Regions from separate parts of the Homo sapiens genome. Here all the other regions are reported to be linked to region 3. Evidence: microRNA targets listed by miRTarBase, many of them from high-throughput screens and not tested one by one. Region 3 holds a microRNA gene; each other region holds the end of a gene's coding sequence.
The links. Region 3 holds the annotated microRNA hsa-miR-548h-3p (CAAAAACCGCAAUUACUUUUGCA, at 4,073-4,095, shown strand). A microRNA usually pairs through its seed, bases 2 to 8, with sites in the 3' UTR of a target mRNA and lowers its output. Matches are read on the target gene's strand: a 7mer-m8 pairs with bases 2 to 8, a 7mer-A1 pairs with bases 2 to 7 and ends in A, and an 8mer does both.

Region 1: miRTarBase lists GPC5 as a target of hsa-miR-548h-3p. The part of its 3' UTR that is shown has no 7-base or 8-base seed match.
Region 2: the mRNA of ABCE1 is a reported target of hsa-miR-548h-3p. Seed matches in the 3' UTR shown: 7mer-A1 at 1,953-1,959.

The regions. Positions count from the first base shown.
Region 1 is chr13:92,865,243-92,872,447 of GRCh38, reverse strand. GPC5 (glypican 5) reads right to left here. Exons shown (of 8, transcript NM_004466.6): 8 at 5,211-6,166. The coding sequence ends at 6,009. Among named protein-coding and RNA genes, the nearest start is that of GPC5-AS1, 150 kb to the right of the region's middle.
Region 2 is chr4:145,126,201-145,133,405 of GRCh38, forward strand. It overlaps ABCE1 (ATP binding cassette subfamily E member 1), which reads left to right. Exons shown (of 18, transcript NM_002940.3): 18 at 1,326-3,324. The coding sequence ends at 1,373. Among named protein-coding and RNA genes, the nearest start is that of ABCE1, 31 kb to the left of the region's middle. RefSeq lists an enhancer at 1-171.
Region 3 is chr8:27,045,761-27,052,965 of GRCh38, reverse strand. It overlaps MIR548H4 (microRNA 548h-4), which reads left to right and starts at 4,003; the gene lies at 4,003-4,113.

The DNA.
Region 1 (7,205 bases), not on the chromosome of region 3:
CCAACTACCCCATCATATGGCCACACTAGGGCACCTGGCATATGGAATCTCCTCAGGATCCTCAACCTTACTACTAGAGCTAAATTTGAGATGAAAGACAAATGAAAAATAAAATATCTTAGAGAGAAGACATTTTAGAAAGTGAATAAAACAAGGGAACATTTAAAAATAGCCTATACAGCCTTCAAGTAGCCTAACCTAACCTAATTGACCTATCAAAAGTTTTCTGAACCCTGGGATACTGAGTGGTGCAGTGGAAAAAAGGATTTTGAAGGCTGATTTTAGAATGCTTGCTTTGTCTATCACTGGCAATGTGACCTTAATGAAGTGATTTTGCCTCTCAGAAATAACCACTTGGGGGTAACTTAGGTGAGATACTGAGCAACACACTTCTTGTTTACTCATATTTGTTCTTCCCACCGCGCTTGGGTTGTACTGGTAACCCACAGTATAATAATCCCACAGAGATGGAGGTCTAAATACACCAGTCAAGGAGACCTTCAAGCAAGGTTTGGAGGTCTCTAAATTTGTCATTGTAGACACCAATTCACATTTGAATACTGGGTCAGAGCTAATATCCTTTTATATTCAATGAAAGAAAGACCACTTACTCCCAATACTTAAAAAAATAAACTTTCAGTGAATAAGCCTCATAGCCAGGATGAGTCCAGGCAAAACATGAAACATGAAGCAGGCAGTATGGGTTTCTTGTGCATTCCAGAGTCCATTGCTTCTCTTCTCTTTCCCTTTCCTGAACCCTACTCATTCACTCTCCAACCATCTTCTCTACGCTCTGGATATGGTTTGGCTCCAGGTCCTCACCGAAATATCGTGTTGAATTTTAATTCCCAGTGTTAGGAAGGGACCTGGTGGGAGGTTATTTGTTCATGGGGCTGGAGTTTCCCCTTGCTGTTCTCTTGACAGTGAGTTTTCACAAGATCAGGTTGTTTGAAAGTGGGTTGCACTTCCCCATTCACTCTCTCTCTCCTGCTGCCATGTGAAGATTGTGCCTGCTTCCCTTTTGCCTTCTACCATGATTGTAAGTTTCCTGAGGCCTTCCCAGCTATGCCTACTGTACAACCTACAGAACTGTGAGTCAATTAAACCTCTTTTCTTCATAAATTATCCAGTCTCAGGTAGTTCTTTATAGTAGTATGAAAACAGACTAACACAGATCTCTTCCCCTATCAAAAACTTATTGACAGGCAGAATCCATAACTAAATATTCTAGTGTTGTCCCATCCTGGAAACATGTGCACTTTAACAGAAAGCTCTGTGGGAAGGGAACAAACACGAATCATTATGGCTCATCATGGGCCAGCAGGGTCCTAATAGGTGTTGGATTATCTAGTTCTCTAAGTAACACTGTGAGGTAGATACAGTTATCTCAATTTTTACAGATAAGAAAAGAGAAAGGAAATAGAGACAGTAGCCAGAAAATGTATGTGGGGAATGAGTATGTATATGGATGGAGCGGCAGGGTGGGGGGGTCAAGGAGAGAAGTGAGAATGTGCCCTGGGTGAGCAAATCACATTGACTTTGCAAATTGGGTCCTGGAACTCTTTGATCACAATTATGGAGTCACTCTTTCTGGAACATACTATACCGTTCACAGCATTTGTCTTACAGCTGGGCCTTCTTGTTCTTGTTCTTCGTTTTTCTTTCTTCTTGTTATGCTAGTGGTCTTGGCTGAGTAATCTCAGGAAAATCAGAGACCTCCCTTTTTTTCTAAGAGTCTTCATTCCTTCCAATCCAACATGTTTAAAGGTGGGTATCAAACTCATAAAAGTAAGAATTTACTTATTACTGCAGTCAGTCCCATTCCTTCTGTCTCCAACCAGTTTTGATCCTTAAATGTTCACCGTTCTGTTCTTAATTCTATGGTCTTTCAAATTCTGATATATTGTCTTTCACTCTGGTCTTCAATGTAGTCAAAGTAAAATTTTAAGGGGAAAATAAGATGCGTGATCTTCTCACACACATTTTCATGAAGTTGATTCCAGTGTGAGAATTGGCAAGTGCAGGAAGGCAAAAGTCTCTTAAATCAGATGTTTCCAAAAAGTAACCATGGACATCCACTCCTACTCTACTCTCTTCCAAATAAGTTATTGTTTTCTGCTATGGAAATATAAATTATATTGTGATGAAATTACTCAGTTTTCTCTGTGCAAGGAGGCAGAAAGGATAGCTTAAGAATTATATTTGATTAGATCTCTAGTCATAAAGTAATTATAACAGTAATTCAGTCACTCTGTAATTTTACTAAAGGCAAGGAAAGCAGACTTTTGACTTGAGAAATATGTTTTATCTGTATTTTAATCAAAAATGACTTGTATACAACAATCTGCATTTAAAGAAAAACTTGATATGTTCACATTCATACCTAACAACATTAGAAATTATTATTTCTGAATTTTCATAACCCATGTAATTGTATATGAATGACATTAAAGGTTGCAAACTAAATACAATAGTGATGTAGCCTGCTCAACAAAGTTCTCATTCAGAATAAGAGACGTCTAGGTTGAATATATTCATTCAAGAAAAAAATCATTTTTATTGTCCTTGAAGGATTCTGATGTTAGAAACAATATTTTATATGATAGCAAACAGTTAGTAATAAATGAATTTAGTCCTTTTCAAAGCATCATTATTGAGCACTTCAGAAAATCTGAGTGTTGGGAGGAAAGAGCTTATTAACCTCAGTCCTTTTTTAGTGAGAAGATAACCATGCAGACATTATTTTATTGTACCATGTACTGTAACCATGCAGACATTATTTATTCACAGAATAAATAGAGGATAAAGGCAAATCTAAGATTTAAAAAATAATTTTCTGCCATGCCCTTTCCCTTCCTTCCCTTCTTCCTTCCCTCCCTCCTTCCCTCCCTCCTCCCTCCTTTCCTTCCTTCCTTCCTCCTCTCCTTCCTTTCATTTTTTTATGCCATCCTATAGCCAAAGAAATGTTTTATACCTTTTTGTTGCAAAGGAAACTAAAATAAACTTCATGATCCCATTAGAGTTAAAACAGTTGTGTTTTCTTTCTCATTCTCGGCAGCTGATTTATTTTCAGGGCTGATGTGTTTAGAGTGGGTTTGAATATATGGGAGGGTAATGAATGGTACTAAAAAAAGTCCATGTTTACACTTCTCCTTTTTATTATGTTTCTACACTAATGTGCATTTTGGTAATTAGACAATTATTCTATAGCCAACTGTATTTGTTAAATCCTAGTTTGGAGACTTAAGTAGTCTCTGAATGATTTTTGTGCTAACCTGTAGTTCCTCGCTGTTGTTCCAAAACTGTATCTTTGAACCAGAAAGGTATACAGTTTATTTAAAGGTATCATACTCACCATCTAACTCTGTTATGATTAGTTGTATGACATCTGTCAAATTCCCTAATATTTATAAGCTCAGTTTTCTCATTGGTAAAATGGAAATGTCAGTGTTTTTGGGGAGATTAAATGACATTGTGCATCAAGGCATTTATCATGGTGCGTATACAAAGAAAGGCCAAGTAAATGTTAGTTCTGCTTCTAAACCTAGTCTCCCCAATATATGCAAAATATCAGACGAAGTTTTATGATTACTTAAACTCATAAAAATAACTCCGGGATTCAAGAATATGGCTCTTTTAAAAATTACACCAGCATAAAATGTGACTATGTGTGTGATATTTTTAAATACATACATTCAGTCTGATGTAATCTATTAAATAATCTTGGAAAGTAGACACATATCCAACACTTGTATCATTGCTCAAAACTTTCTTAGACCTTATTAATGAAAAACTCTCCAGAAGCAAATTCTGAGCCATATAAAAAATCAGCATTATTGTTTTTATTTGACTGAAAATCAAGCCTATCTTTGAGGGGGCGAAGAAAGTCCAAATGAGATACTCTCTCTCATTTGAAAGAGCTTTGCAATTCATAAGAAACTATGTAGATATGAAATGTCACAGAATGGGAAGTGTTAATGGATAAGTATATCCTTACTGAGAATATTAACAATTTTGCCTTAGGCTTTTAAAGAAATTCTGAAAACCCCAGTGTTTTAAGCTCTAGTAACACCATTATTGCTTATATAGTCCCCAAAGTGCCCACCTGCAGATAACACCCATCTGAGCATGTAAAACTTAGTTTAAAAAAAAATAATCATTTCTTGTATTGACTTTACCACTCTGCTTTTGTCCATTTCTTGCCATATCTGAAATTATCTTCTGTCAATTAATTTTATCCATATATCTTAGACTGCTAAAGCATGCTCTTCAGTTTGTTTGTCTTTAGAATTAAATTCCTCTTAAGTTGGGTCTGAAATTTTGCCGTAGCAAGCCAATCATGACTTGGGCTGGAGGGCAGCAAATGAGTGCCTTAGTATCACTTTTTTCCAAGACTGATTTAAATGAAGAGCTGAGGTTGAAGTAAAAAATTTTCAAAATAGGGTTAAGTTTGTAATTTGTGGAGTGTGTCAAGGTGAGTGCAAATGAGTTATTAACTGAATGGATCAGGGAATGTTAGGTGTGGAATGGAAGCCTAGGAAAATGGCATCCACAACTGATGGGTAGAATAACACTTACGGTTCTGAGGCATGTTTGAATGGAGGGTAAAACCTGATTGGGCAGCTTAAAAATGTTGTGATTTAAACTAACCATCCTTAGATCATTTTGTTAATTGAGAACTTAAGCGAGAACAAGGTTTGATCATATATTGTTTCCTGACTAGCAGAAACGGATTTTACCTTATTAATGTTTGCATTTGGCTGTGTCTTGTTTACGTCTTTGTCAGAAGTCATTTCAAATTTTTTTTTGTTTTTTTTTATTTGAGGTCAGCAATTCCCTTTTCTATTCTGTGACTTTGTATTAATTATATTTTCTCTCTGTAGACTGGATGTGATACTTATTAATAAAAACTAACTTCTCTTTTCCTCAAGTATAGCCATATACATATCCTATTAGTGTCTATTGAGGCAACTTATCCCAACTGAGAAATTAGGGACTGTTGGTTTGCAGCTCCATTAATGAGCAAATAGGAAAGAGCTAAAGTGTTGCATATCATCTTTTCTGTACATGTCTGCAGATATTCATAGGAACCTTAGAAATGCAAAGGTAGCCAATTGTACAACATCAGGCTTTAAAAAGTAGTACATAATATTTTGAAAATGGGTGAAAATAGCATTTTTGCCAGAAGAAAATGACAAATATTCTTCAAATTTTTCCACCAAATAGTTAACAGCTTTATTGGAGATATTCCTAGAGCAAGCATGTGCTTCCCAACATAGCTAAATCTATGAGGCAAAGAGAGAGATGGGAGCAGAGGCACAATACCAAAGATGCATTTTGAATATAATGGAATACAAATCAGGTGTTAATAAAATACTCAGCTTTAAGGTTCATCAGTGGCTAAGTTACAGTGGGTCAAAATTATCAAGGTTCTTCAGTGAAATTATATGAAATGCTTCTCAAGAATCTACCCCATAACTTATAGACATTCAGACATTTCCTTCTACAGCTTGCAAAAATGGAAGAGTCTCTTGAATATGCATGCATACTACTTGCCATTGTATGTTTTGATTTATTTCATGATATTCTAATTTCAATACTTTAAGAAATACTGCATACTGTTTTCATTGTCTGGCAAATACACTTTCAAATGAAAACATTTTTAATTTAGAAAGGAAGGGGCTTGGAATTGATAATAAAATTACAGATACACTAAATTCTTCTTATTCAAAGTCACTTCTGTGCCCTTCACATCTTCAGATTTAATATATTAGAAGTTAAGAAGGTTTTCAGTTAGATTGAAAAAAGACATATTTTTAAAGTGTGTCATTTAAACGTTGAGTTTTAGGGACTTTATGAATATTTCAGCTTGGCTTCTGAGAAGTTAGTGTAACATATCTTTTCATAAATATAATTGTTACATTGAAAAAGGATCTCTTATTCCAGGCATATGCAGAGAGAGAAGAAATCGAGACTTCAGTAAGGTATGTCAGGACAGAAGAGTTCAGTTACCAAATCCCGGGAAGTAACATCACCACACTTATCAGAGTGAATGTCATAGATTCAGTCGCCACTGCACATCCTGCTCCTGTTGTGTCTAAAGTACTGCCAGTGTCTGTTTGATGGATTTGCTTTACATCACTGAAGTTCATATCATCTGGCATCCCTGTAGAGGCAAATAAGAAAGCACAGGTGATGCATGACCACTTCACCATAATACGTCTAGAACAACTCTTAAACTCAAAGTGTGGACAGCATTGTTTTTGGGGACCATTCTCTATGTTCACCTAACTCTAACATAATTAATATGACACAGGTATTTCTGTCCTACTTAGATTGGAGAGTTCAAGCTCTTGTGTGAAAATTCTCAAATATTATAAGAGCAAAGTGAAAAGATTTTTAGCTTTTTAAAATTTTTGGAACATTTCTCTGCCACTGGTAAGTAAGTGAAGACATTTAATTAATTAATATATCCTAGGTATGGGATTAGTTCTTGTTTCAGAGATTTATCACCTTCAGTAACTGAAAACTTTTCCCATGAAAATAAAACCAGTTGAGGGGATATAATTGAATAAAATATTTTTTAAAAGTAGAATTTCTACAGATCATATTTTACATTAGAATAAAGTAGGCCTAAGATCTTTTTCAAATTTATTTTCATTTTTACTTGACAAATTTTATAGATATTGATGGGGTACAATGTGATATTTTGACAAGTATACCAGGAGGAATGATAAAGTCAAGCTGGCTAGCATATCCATCACCTCACATCCTTAGCATTTTTCTTGTGGAGGGAACATTTGAAATGTACCTTCTTGGCAATTTGGAAATATACAGTACATTATGAATGATAGTTACCATGCTGCGCAATGGTCTAAAACATTTCTTCCTCCTGTCTAACTAAACTTTGTACCCTCCAACCACCATCTCCCCTCCCTTCCCCACATCCATCCCCTGGCAGCCACCCTTTTACTTTCCCCTTTTATGACTTCAGCTATTTTAGATTCCACATGTAAGTGAGATCAGGAATTAGGACCTTTATGGAAATAGCAAATAGCAAAGAATAATAGCAACAAATGTTAAATTATATCTTCCATACACACATACAGCTGTGAGGATGGAGGTGTAGATATCTATCAACAGATCAAAGAAGTTGTTAATGGGTGGACTGGAGAATGAAGTTAGGGATAAAGTGTTTCATTTAA
Region 2 (7,205 bases), not on the chromosome of region 3:
ATTTGTTTCTTAAAAGGCAAAAATCTTAGTCACTCAGAAACAGAAAGTAAATGAACTCTAAAAGCATTTCTGGGTTGTTTTTTTGGTTTTGGTTTTAGTTGTTTGTTTTTTTGAGGCAGAGTCTCACTCTCTCACCTAGGCTGGAGTGCAGTGGCGTGATCTCGGCTCACTACAACCTCTGCCTCCCGAGTTCAAGCAATTCTCTGCCTCAGCCTCCCGAGTAGCTGGGATTACAGGTGCCCACCACCACACCCGACTAATTTTCTGTATTTTTTTGATAGAGATGGGGTTTCACCATCTTGCCCGTGCTAGTCTTGAACTCCTGACCTAGTGTTCCACCTGCCTTGGCCTCCCAAAGTGCTGGGATTACAGGCGTGAGCCACCATGCTGGCCATCATTTCTGTTTTTAATATCTGCAGTGCCTCAAAGTGTTTACATTTTATCACTCTGTATCCATCATCCTTAATGCTTAAAAGCTTTAGAAGTATGTTATACATACTTCTGCTGTAGCATTTATTTTCATATTTGTAGTCCTAGCTTTGCTGCTAAACCATGAGCTCTTGGAATGCCAGAGGCAAAGTTATCTTGCACGTCATTGTATTCTTAAGCACCTAACAGTATGTCTGGATGCCTTTTTTCTGATTGATATTACTTCTTGGCCAGGATAGAGAAATGGTTAAGTTCTCACATAAAATTGAAGAGTTTTCTCAGTTTTGAAAAGCATATTGGGTAGAAAAGAAGAATTTCTTTGGAAGCATTAAGGACACTTTGTATTGTCATTTTCTTAGACAGACTTATGGTTCAGTCACCATGAGTTATCATTTCTGTATGCCTACTCATCTTAAGATTGTCATACCTTAATCCTAATAAGAGAACAGCTCAACAAGTAGGTAGGTGAGATTGTTACTGGCCAGTATTGGAAAAAACTTTATATATATATATTTTGTGTAGTAGGCAGATCTCAAACTGACAGTATGCTGCATTTTGAATCTGGAGATAAAAGTTGCATTGATGAAAATGGAATTTAATAGTTTTCCTAGAAATAATAACACATAGCAAAATTTTATATATGTGAGGCATCTTATATAAAGGGACTTTACTTGAGTTGGTGCAAGTGAGTCATTCTAGCATTAGGGATGGGGCAGAGGTAGTTATCTTTCCTTTGAGCAGTGGACCCAGGAATATCCAGAAACAGATGGTATGTGCAGAACAGGTTGTACAGGCACTGTTTTAAGCACAGCTAAGTAATACCATGAGTGAAAGTCTACTTTTACCTATAGTAGAATCGTGTTGCTGATTTTTGTGGCTTCTGTTTTCTTTTTTAGGATGTAGAACAAAAGAAGAGTGGAAACTACTTTTTCTTGGATGATTAGACTGACTCTGAGAATATTGATAAGCCATTTATTAAAAGGAGTATTTACTAGAATTTTTTGTCATATAAAACTTGAATCAGGATTTTATGCCCCACATACTCTGGAACTTGAAGTATAATATACTTAATATAACATAAAAAGCCAGTTGGGTTCTAAATTGTAGTTGAAACACAGAAAATGCCACTTTTCTGTTCCTGAAGAGGCTCTTTTGTGCATAATATTCTAAAATGAAGACATTTCAAGCTATACAAATTACTTCCAAGTTTTCATGATGTATGGGAAGATTTTCAGTAGGTGTATTATATTCACGGTACCAAATGCTGACCAGTGTTGCTCCATTTTTTAAATCTTGAAAAGGGTTTCTGTACTTACCTGGTTTGCCAAGTATGCCAGTGTAATGAAACTGCCCTTATTTTAAAAGCCAGTCAAAGATTCCACTGATTGACATTTGATAAATAAACATCAGGATTATGTTTATTGTTTGTTTTCAGTCTTTGCACTATATTACCAGTATATGGTTTCCGAGGAAGATTATCTACTGCAAAACACCACTGTTGGAAAAATAGGTATTTTTAAATTGTTTTTAATCTTTTTTGGTGCTTTTAAACATGTTTAGCAAAAACCAATTCAGTTCCATTCCCCGCAAAAAACCCCTAACTTTACTCTGAACTTTTTTTGTTTTTGCATTCCATGAGGTTCTGTATTCAGTCATTCTCTAGGTAATGTCATTTTTGTACACATATATTTATATAATCACTGATTGAGATTTAGGAAAAAGCATTTCTAAAGAATATTTGCTTCCCTTAGAACTACAGACTCGAAATCTTTAAAGATGGTGCCTAAGCATCTATGTATTTTTTTTAAGTTCCACAGATTTTTCTGTTGGGCAGCCAAGGATTATAAACCACTTCCCTAAAGGCAACATTAATGCAAAAGTCCCCAGATGGCAATACAAAGTATCCCCTGGTACCACATATATTCATTTGTGAGTTTGGATATAGAGCACATTATCTAAACCATTTTGTAGTTCCAAAAACCCATCTAAATTTCTTGAGTTCCTGAATTTTGAACAGGATTACCTGGAGCCTGGAGCCACTTTAAGTTGTACTTCTGACTAAACTGGAATTATGAGTGAGGAAGAGTGTTTACTAAATAAATGACTGGGGCAAGCAAAATTGAGGAGGAAATTAGAAACTGTTTGACAAACTTTAAGAGCTACTTGAAATAACAGAAGTCTTGATTAATATGCAAATAATGGCTAGAAAGTATGGTTTAACTGGACCCTATTATGCCTTTTAAAAATAATTTCAGTAACCCATAAATACATGTTGTAAAAAATTCAAATATACAGAATGGAATAAAAAAATGATCTCCCTTTATTACCCTCCCAAAGGTTACCAGCGTTTGAATTTAATAATGTATATTCTTTCATGCTTTTTTCTGTGCACTTACCTAAGTGTGAATATGTAAAGGGTTTGTTTTGTATACAAATGGGATTATACTAAAATAAGTAATGCCTATTTTTAAGGATAGGTTAAATTTGTGAATGATCATTTCAAATATATTGAATAAAATAAGCAAAAGCTATTGTTATTTACTGATCCTGGATTGTCTTAAAGAAAGTACTTGTGATATAAGAGCACAGTTCTACTTACTGCTAATGACAGAATATGTATTAAACGTATTTTCATGTAAATGAAATCTTTAAAATATGTATCTTAAAATTTTACATAGCAACAGAAAGGCCTACAATTGCTAACACAAGAAAAATACTTATAAAATCAGTATAAAATCAATGCAGATGTTAGCAAAAGAATGAGACTACTTCATATGTCCTAATTGGAAAAAGTCTCAAATACTTAAAAAAACAAAAAACTGGAACAGTTTATTATACTACCATTTTTGTGAAAATATACAAAATATTGAAATAAAGGAATACTCAAGAAACAGATTGCTTTTGACAAGGACAATTTGATCAAAGAATAGACGGGAAAAGGAGACATTTATATATACACATATATAATACCCTTTGAATTTTACACTTTGCATGTGATTATAAATCATTGAAATTTTGGGGGTTTTTTTTTGTTTGTTTGTTTTGAGATGGAGTCTCGCTCTGTCACCCAGGCTGGAGTGCAATGATGTGATATTCACTCACTGCAACCCGCCTCCTGGGTTCAAGCAATTCTGCCTCAGCCTCCTGAGTAGCTGGGATTACAGGCACCCACCACCACACCCAGCTATTTTTGTATTTTTAGTAGAGACGGAGTTTCACCATGTAGGCCAGGCTGGTCTCAACTGGACCTCAGGTAATCCACCCGCCTTGGCCTCCCAAAGTGCTGGGATTACAGGCATGAGCCACCGCGCCCAGCCATTGAAGTTTTTAAATCGTCATTGGATAATAATAGTGGCATCTGTAGCCACTTCTCTCCACATTTGAGATAATACTGGATAATCCATATTTTCTGTGTTCACTTAGTGTAGTCTTAAAGGCAGTGTATTGATGCTACAACTGTTTTTTGCAATTTAGGTTAACCTAATTTTAGACTACAAGCATTCTGAAGTCCAGTCTTGTATCTGTCTTAACACTCAGTATATATAGCATGGTGTCTGGCATGTAGTGGCCTACTGTATTGAAGGAATGAACCTGCATGCCACAGAGAAAGTAGGAAGACTACAAAACTGCTGTGTTGTATAATTTCCTTCATGTTCATCAATATACTTGGATACAGGTATGTCAAGTCCTTAACCCCAGTGCCTAGTCTGCTGTGAGCACTCAGTGAGTGGTTCAGAAGAGAAAGTAATCATTCTGAGTTGGAATGTCAGAAAGGACTACATAAAGGAATTAGGTCCCAGGAAAGAGTAACAGCACCCATCTTACTGAGTTGTTAAAAGGATAAGTGAGATAATCTACCTAAAGCAAAATACATGTCTGGTGAGAGGCAGAAAGGAACATGGGCATTTAAGAGATTAATGGAAGGAAATGATGGATATGGGCAGATTGTGATGAGCTTTCTGTGCCTTCCAGATTGAAGTTAGTTTTTTACATGCTGAAAGTAGTAGGACTTGAAGAGACAAAGCAAGGCCAGTTAGAGAAGCGGAAATATCCAGACAGTAGTTGTTCCGGAGCTTCTACTTTAATTTTTCACCGCTTTGTCTTAATTTTTTTAAGCATTTCTACTCTGTCCACTTAATACATGCAGGTCTAAACTTGGCTGTATACTGTGCTGACTGTTGCTCTTGGAAGATTGTTTCCTTTGTAGTGTTTCAGTTTGTGAGCAGATGTTCAGTGAGGCTGTATCTGAAAATTCTGAGATTTTGTGTGGCAAATATCATTTATCCTCAGCCCTGTACTCACCACCACTACCACCTCCTCTGCCAATGCCCAGTCCCACGTGGTTGGTCATAATTGGTCTAAGACATAGAAAATCCTCTTCCATACTTTCCTAGTCTCTTGCAGTTAAGCCATATGACCTAACTGCAAGAGAGTTCTAGCCAGTAAATTGAAACCTCTTGAGGTTTTTCTAGAAAATACCTCAAGAAAACCTCGTTTTCCTAATAAAGGGAGATTATCATCTGGTACTGCTTCTTGAGGGTGTAATATATGGAGCAAGCATTTCATGCCCAGAAGGTGACACATATAAGGGAAATGCAAAACAAGCTACAAGAATGTTACTCCTGACATTAAAATGCTGCACAACTGCCAGCAGCCACTTCTCTCCACATTTCTTGAGAAATAAATCCCTATTTGTTTAAACCTGGTTAAGTCAAACTGGTTTCCTGTTTGCCATCAAGAAAGGTCTTTTCCTTGAGAGGCTCTCCATTTGCCTTCTGCCAGGGGAGCCAAGTGTGTTACCACCCTGGAACCACTTTTCAGTTTTCCTAGTTTGTGAGTTTCTGGACCTCAAACCTAAATGAATGTGGTAACATTTTCAGTGGTTGTTTTGTTTTTTGCCTTTAAGAAACTGGATCCCAGGCCAAGACAGTTTTGTCTGGGAATTTTTAATTTCACTCCTTTTCGCTGGGGTGACTCTGGCTTTAATGAAAATGTTAGTTCCAGCTCCCAACCTTGCATGTGCCTAAGTATAGGTCTCCCATGTCAATGGTCACTTTATATCTGTGCTTCTGGTTTCTTGTCTCCATTTATAAAAGTATCTTATAAAACTATACAGGACTTAAATGCTTTTACTACTAGTTTGGAAGGATGCAACAAGTAACAAATATATCCCTAGATAGGTAAATTGCAGTAGTTTGTTTTCTATTTGATCTGGAGGTCGTTAGTCCAAAGTCAAGGTTCTCATTTTTTTTAAAAAGAAATTGGCTTACTACACAGAATTTTGTTATCAATCGGTTAACCTGCCAGTTCAGTTAAGAATATTCATAGGGATAGGAGGCCTTAAGAACCACACTCATCTACATTTACATCTTTTTTTTTTTTTGAGACGGAGCCTCACTGTTGCCTAGGCTGGAGTGCAGCGGCACGATTTTGGCTCACTGCAACCTCCGCCTCCCAGGTTCAAGTGATTCTCCTGCCTCAGCCTCTCCTGCCTCAGCTGGGATTACAGGTGCGTGCCACCATGCCCGGCTAATTTTCGTATTTTTGGTAGAGACAGAGTTTCACCATGTTGGTTAGGCTGGTCTCGAGCTCCTGACCTCGTGATCCACCCGCCTCAGCCTCCGAAAGTGCTGGGATTACAGGTGTGAGCCACCACGCCTGGCCTACCATTAACATCTTTAATCTTTGTAATGCTTTTTACTAAATGTGAAAAATAAAATATAATTACAGGAATGTTATGTATTTTTAAAGGATTGCCTCTAAAGCCCCAGTTTCTCTAATGAATTCATTATAGAAAAACCAGTTTCAAAAACTGATGTTTATACCTATGTCTGTCTGTAGCTTTTCTTAGAAAACCCTATTAAACTATTCTGAGGGGTCCACGTTTCATGAAGAACTCACAGATTAAGTTAGGGTGCAAAAGTTTATGAAGGGAAGCTGTGTTTAACTTCCTCTTTCATAGTTACTTACATTCTCATACTATGCCCTAGACCCAGACCTAAGTCTTTGAATGAAAAGGGAAAGTTTAATTATTCAAAGTGAAAAGCAGGCCCTTTGTATCAGACACTTTTTGGAGACCGCTGACTTAATTTGGGTCACTGCCATGCACTTCTGGAGTGACCAATTCTGCAAGAGCCCCCCATCCAGCCACAAACACACCTCTTACTAACCAGCCCCAACACTGGCTTCTCTTATTGACTCCATGGATAAACCCACGGGCATACTGCCAAGAACCTAATGTTTCCTTTCTCCTTCCTTTCTCCCTTTCCCACAAGGTTCTATATTTTACTCAGCTCCTAAAGCAGTCTCAAAAGTTCCACATGCCAACTCTCGTTACCTTTATAACAGCTCATCCTCCTTCCCAGCCTGCTGACCCTGTTCCTAGATCACTCACTTTTCTGTCAAATACTTGAACTGAAAGAGGCTCTTGTTTCAGGTTCGGCCTCCTGAGGAAGCCAGGCTAACAGAAAGTTCATATTGTATGTAAACAAGTATTGACTTGATAATATTCTTTGGTAACTTTTATAAAGAAAAACAGGCTTTAAGAAATTGAGTTTTCAGAGTATAAAGTAAGTATACTTTGTTTTCAAAACACTCAATTTGCTTTCACCTTTAGCCAACATAAATATCACTGAATGCTAAATGTAAAAACCATTAAAAAACAATTTAATCCATATTCTTAGATATTCTGCACATTCCCATTTAGTCATTGCAGAAAAAAAATGGTAGCACTAGCTATAAAATCACTTAAAACTAGACTCAAATACAAGTCCTAC
Region 3 (7,205 bases):
TTGGATTGATTTTTCTTTTTACTGTTGGTTTTGAAAGTTTTAGAAATATATTCTAAATACTTGTCCTTTTTTGGAATCGTTTGCAAATATTTTCTCCTAGGATGTAGCTAGTCTTTTCGTCCTCTTCACTGAGCTTTTGCACAGCAAGTTAAATTTTGATTAAGTAAAATTTGTCAACTTTTTCTCTTATGGATCGTGCTTTTTTTGTCAAGTCGAAGGCTTTTTGGGTAATTGTAGGTCCTGTCTTCTACTTTTTCCCAAGAGCTTTAAAACTGTACATTTTACATTTTGTCCCTGATCCATTTTGAGTGAATATTTGTACGATGTGTGACGTTTAGGTTGAAGTTCATGTTGTTTGCCTTTGGATGGTCAGTTGTTCCAATGCCATTTGTTGAAAAAGCTATCCTTTCTCCATTGAACTGCTTTGGATCTATGTCAAAAATTAGGTGAGCATATCTGTATGAGTCTGGATCCTGGATTTTTTTTTTCTTTTCCACTGATCTATGTGTCTGCCCCTTTGCCAATACTATGGTGTCTTGATTGTCTCGATTACTCTAGCCATACAGTTACATGTTAATAATCAGCAGAGTAATTCCTATATTTTATTCTTGTTTGTCAAGATTACTTTAGCTATCGTAGGGTCTCAAACTTTTCATATAAATTCTAGAGTAAGCTTGTCTTTCGCAACGAAAACTTTGCTGGGATTTTGATAGAAATTGCATTAAGCATATAGAGAATTTGGCCAGAACTGACATCTTTACTATGTTGAGTCTTAAACTCGGTATGTTTTTCCATTTAGCTCCTTGATTTCTTTCATTTAATCTTTAATTTTTGACAATTTAACTATGATGTATCATGGTGTCTCTTTGGATTTGTCATCTTTTATGTCTTATGGGTTTCCGGGATCTGGCTTTCTAATGTCTTCCTGAGACTTCGGAAGTGTTCTGCCGTCATTTCCTTGATTATGTTTTATATCCCTTTCTCTGTTTCTTTTCCCTGTGGCACACCAATAATGCATAATTTGTTCTGCTTAATGGTGTCCCATTGGTCTCTTCATCTATAATTACCTCTTTTTATTCTTTTTTGTTTTTGCTTCTCAGACTGAATGATTTCCAGTGATCTGTCTTCAGGTTCACAATTTTTCCCCCTGATTGTTCTAGTTTGTTATTGAACCCCGCTATTGAATTTTTTAATTCAGTTATAGCATTCTTCAGATCTATGATTTCCATGTGATACTTTTTTATACTGTATCTTTGTTGAAGTTCTCAGCTTGTTCTTGGATTGCTGTCTTGACATCTATGAGTAACCTTATGGCCATTATTTAGAATTTTCTGTCAGGTAAATCACAAAACTCCACTTCATTCAAGTATGTTTTTGGAGATTTATCTTGTTACTGTTTGTTTTGTTTGTTTGTCTTATTGTTTGTTTGTTTTGTTCCTATTTCTTTCTTTTCCTTGATTTTCAGTATTGGTTTTTTTACATTAGGTAGAAACCTACTTCTTAGTAGACTGAGATTGCATAGAAGGTTTCTACCAGTCCGTTTGACTAGAGATTTTAAGGTGCCCCTCTTATTTCGGTGTTTGTTCAGACTGCTGTGCCTATACCAGAAGGTCTATGACATCTTATAGTACTAGAAGTCTTATCATGACATTTTTGTTAAAAACTTAGAAATTGATTTCTGAAAAGATTTTACAAATGTAGTGAGGTATTTTCTGTATTTTATCATACTAAATAATCTCCAAATAATCTGATAAATGAGCATAGTGTTCAGAAAAAACCTCTTTTAATGTGATGAATCTTTTATAGATTTAGGCATATTTATGGCAAACCGACTATGCTGTATCAGTCCCCCTTCACACCCCCGAGGCTCAACTGAGATTTACCATTGGAATTAATTGTGAATGGCTTTGTCTCAGGACTATAACATATTCCAAGCTAGAGGTTTCAGGAACAAAGCGTCTGCATCTGTCTTTGTCTTTAGCCCTCACGTGAGGAGCCCATTTATTAGCCTTCTTTATTAATTTTTTATATGGAGAAGTGACTCAACATGTACTAGACAGCCAAATAAATTACTGATCATCTCCTTCTATGCACAGTTTCATATTACCAAAAACTATACGCATATATGAGTTAAACAATTTGGTAATATGTTAACAACATAATATCTAGAAGTATCTCACCACTTAAAACATACGTGCACAAACACACATATTCAATCTTGTTGGCTTTTATTTGTTTCAATACTATAATTCTATTTTTGATATCCCTTCAATTATAATTTAGTTTCCATTGTTATGATATATAAATATATTTGTGCATAGACTATTTGGATATTTTATATTTGCATTAACTAAAAATTTTCACCGCATTTTTGCATGCATAATTTTGTTCTATTTCTTTCTCAATTTTGCTTTAAAAAGTATCTTCATTTTGCAGATGTGCAAGCTGAACAGAGGATTAGAACTTATTTTTTCTAAAAATCTAACAGTTAACTTCTAGCAGCATTGAGACCAGAATATAGATCTTCTGACTCCAGGCTCTTTGCGGTAAACATCAATCCCTCTGTGGCTAATGTCCAAACACAAGATGAAAGAAAACGTGGAGCAGAATACAAAAGGAATTATTTCATGCTGCATTCAGAGGTGTCATTCATACCCAGGAAGCACTTTTAATTACCAATCTGGTGTTAATTTTCTTATCTGTGTCTCATCTGTGACTAAACATTATCCAGCCCAGGCTGATAAATTCTGATATGAATCAGATATTATTTCAAATTTATGCTTTAGCCATACCCATGTAAGCAGTCTCCTACCCCATATATCTCATTTACAGAGACTGTTTATTTGTAGTTAACTTTTAAAAATTCAGATTCATAGAATTACAACTATAAATTGCCAAACATGTATAGAATTATTATTATACAGAAAATAATATCAGTGTCATTATATCCAATTAATCTTTCATTCAGAATCTTGTGCAGAACAGATTAAATTGAGAACTTAATTTTTTACACATTCACGATTTAACCAGAGAATGTGGCTCTATTTTATATTAACAAATAATTTCTTTGTTTATTCAATAAGCAGTATTCATTGTATTATTAAAAAATGGTCTACTCATAAGGTTTTAAAACAATTGAGTCTATTTATTTCTTTTCCCCTCATGTGTTAATATTTTTTTTGCCTAGTGCTTTAGAAAATATATGACCTAGAAAGCAGCCTAATTCTTGTCACAGCTGCAACCTTACTGATGCAGAAAATTTGGCATTTATATACAATGAAGCTGTCTCTAATGCTTTGTCCACCTTCTAGAATCCCCTTTGTTTAATTACTATGTTTGGAGCCTCAAAAAGGGCCTGCTTTCAGGAATAAGTGGATGGGAATGAGGGGATGCTGATGTGTGAATAAAACGGTGATATAAAAGAAAATGGCTAATTCCCCCCTCTGGCTGAAGTCTGTGGAGGTTGTTCTGCCTGTCACTGATAGCTGTGTGAGTCAGTCTCCAATTTGGGAATTACAATCCTGACCCACCCCCACACCAGGATTGCCCCTGCTACACGTTTCCATGGTGCCAAACTTCCCTGTCCTAGCACGTGATGGCAATTGCTTCTGCTTTCCCTGATAGATGTGCAGGGTTGGGGACAATGCTTGCCTTCCCAGAGTCACATCAATATCTCGCACAGAGCTGGCACATGGCGGGCCCTTCATAAATGCTTGTTCAATGAAAGAATAAAGACAGTTTAAAATTTGAGCTCATTTCTGCCTTTTTCTTTTTAATAGCTTTATCAAAGTATAAATTGATAGACAGAAAAACCCCACATGTATTTCATGTGTACAATTTGATGAGCTTGGGTATACATATACACCCATGATATCATCACAATCAAAATGATAAACATATCCATCGCCTCCAAAAGTTTCCTCTGCCCCCTGCTTTTTGTGGCAAGTGTACCACAGAAAACTTGAAGCCAAACTTGTGATCCTTCGTTGTTCCATTTCCAAAGCTATTAGGTTGGTGCAAAAGTAATCGCGGTTTTTGTCATTACTTTAATTACTTTACGTTTCATTAATGACAAAAACCGCAATTACTTTTGCACCAACCTAATACTTGCTATCATCACTTCTTGTCTATTTTCCATTCCTCTTATAAATGTTGTACAAACTAAATCACACTTAAATAAAATAAATGGGAAATAAAGAAAAAGGAAAAAAGGATGAATGCAGGGAAAAAACACTGCCTGGGTCTGTCTTCTGTCATTCCCCAAAATAACAAGCACAAGCCCTGATATTCATATTCCCAGCATTCACCAGTTGCCCTTTTTTTTTTTTGAGATGGAGTTTCACTCTTGTCGCCCAGGCTACAGTGCAATGGCGTGATCTTGGCTCACTGCAACCTCCACCTCCCAGGTTCAAGCGATTCTCCAGCCTCAGCCTCTCGAGTAGCTGGGACTACAGGTGTGCACCACCATGCCTGACTAATTTTTGTATTTTTAGTAGAGATGGGGTTTTGCCATGTTGGCCAGGCTGGTCTCAAACTCCTGACCTCAGGTGATCCGCCAGCCTTGGCCTCCCCAGATCCTGGGGTTATAGGCGTAAGCCACCCTGCCCGGCCCAGCTGACTTTTATCTTGAGTGACAGTTTTAGAGAAAGGAGGAGGAGGAAATTAGTATATATGGCAGTAGTATGACATTTCATGATCTTAAAAATAGATTTCACCAACTGTAGAAGGTGTTCCCTAAACTAACTGCCTGTGTAGTCTTAATCTTCTCAACGTAACAACAGGTAGTCCATATTGTGGCAGGGTTGGGAGGTGGTGATGGAAAGGGGAGGTGTGAATTCCACAAGGTCTGAGACTGGGACAGGAAGTCTCCATTTTGGCAGTGCTGGTGGGGTAAGAAAGGGCTAATTAGAAGAAAATGCAGAAGCTGAAGTTGAAAGATCAGGCAAAGGCAAAATACTGGTCTAGTAGGAAGTCCAGATCATGGTCAAGTTGGATGGCTTCAGAGGGAGCTATTCAGATGGGCTCCAAAAGTGTCAGCGATCTTCTCTGATAAGCTACCCAAGCTCAGGGCAGGGATACTGATGCTCATTTTATGGTAAGAGCCAGCAAATGAGATGCACTGATTCCACGTTTGTGGATTCTAAACAGCATTTTGCCTTCCTTCTCTATAGTCCTCTTTGCAGCACTCCACGTTACCACCACGGGCATCCCAGATGTTCCTCCTTCATAAACACCTCTAGTTGTTCGCTTTCCCAACTCATCCCTTTTCCCAGCCTCAAGGAAGATAAATCAGTTTTGGGCATTAACTTCCATCCAGTGCACTGGGCTGAGGAATCAGCATGGCTGATTCTGCTATCACTTTCACGAAGCCTGGGGGCAAATGAGGGGAGTAGGGAGGGGTTGGGACCAGGGCACACACATATTGTGAATCTAGGAAGAATCTTAGGATTAAAGCTGTTGCATTTTCCACTTGTATTGAAGCCTTGGGGGTAATGGCTATCCCTTTACCACACTCTCCACCTGACTAAGCTCTCTTCAGCAGAACAATCAACCCAGGCTATGGCTGACTTCATCCAGGGAGACCTAAATTTTTCCATTTACTAGGACTTCTTGGACTTTTTTTTTTCTTTTAATAACCATATAGTCAGCTTTACCCACAATGCATCACCTCTTGTCATCCTCAGACACAACGTGAGACATAAGTTGCACTGACCAACTGAATCCTTCTAGTCTCATCCTCTCCTCTGAGATCTTCCTACTGCTTCTTTTACTATTAAGTCCTCTAGAATCCCTATGCTATGAAAAACACAATCCATACAATTTCACCCTGAACATCTCCACTTGGACACAATAGACATCTCAAACTTAACATATCAAAAACAGAACTCCTTTTTTTTTTCTTCTTTTTTTTTGATACAGGGTCTTACTCTGTCATCTAGGCTGGAGTGCAGTGGCGCAATCTCGGGTCACTGCAGCGTCCACTTCCCGGGCTCACGCGATTCTCTTGCCTCAGCCACTTCAGCAGCTGGGATTACAGGTGTGCACCACCATGCCCGGCTAACTATTGTATTTTTAGTAGAGATGGAGTCTTGCCATGTTGAGCAGGCTAGTCTCGGACTCCTCAAGCCATCTGCCCTCCTCAATCTCCCAAAGTGCTGGGATTACAGGCATGAGCCATTGTGCTGCCCTAGAATTCTTTATTCTATTCCAATCCTTTCCCCAATCTATTTCTGCTTCACTTGGCTTCCTATTATTGAACAGTTACACCATTCTTCCAGCTGCTCAGGCCAAAAACTTTGGAGTCATCTGTGCTATCTTTCTTATTTTCTAACCCACATCTAAGTCCTCAGCAAGTCCTGTTGACATTTCCTTGAAAAATACAGCTCAAGTTGAACTGCTTCTCATCACCTCCACAGCTACCCAGAGGAAGCTGACGTATGTTCTCCTAACTCAGCCCCACTTTTTCTGTTTTTGTTCACCTATGCTCTATTCTGTTCCCAGCTACTGAAATGATCCTTTTTTTTTGAGACAGAGTCTCGCTCTGTCGCCCAGTCTGGAGTGCAGTGGTGCAATCTTGGCTCACTGCAAGCTCCACCTCCCAGGTTCACGCCATTCTCCTGCCTCAGCCTCACGAGTAGCTGGGACTACAGGCACCTGCCACCATGCCAGGCTAATTTTTTGTATTTTTAGTAGAGACGGGGTTTCACTGTGTTAGCCAGGATGGTCTCGATCTCCTGACCTCGTGATCAGCCCACCTCAGCCTCCCAAAGTGCTGGGATTACAGGCGTGAGCCACTGCACCAGGCCGAAACAGAATTCAGAGCATCTTATTCTTCTGTTTTAAACCTCACAGCTTTCCATTTCACAATTAAAAATTTTTACACCCTTACTTTGATATATAAGGCCTGTCTAATCTGATTCCCAGCTATGTTTCTGACACATCTGTGTGATAATAAATGGGTAACACCTGGCTCCCCATATGCCATCCTGGCATGAATGTTGGTTGATATTTTCATACATGTTAACAAGTAAGACAAGAGTAAGAGAATAAAGGAGTGTGTTGGAATTTCCCCATGTGTCGACAACAAGAGGATGTTCTTTGCCAAACTGGATAACAGTTTTCAAATACTGGAAGAATATTTCCTCAATTTTTTGTGCTGTTCAAATGTAGCATGAAACTCTTCTACATTTAATCTGAATTATTAA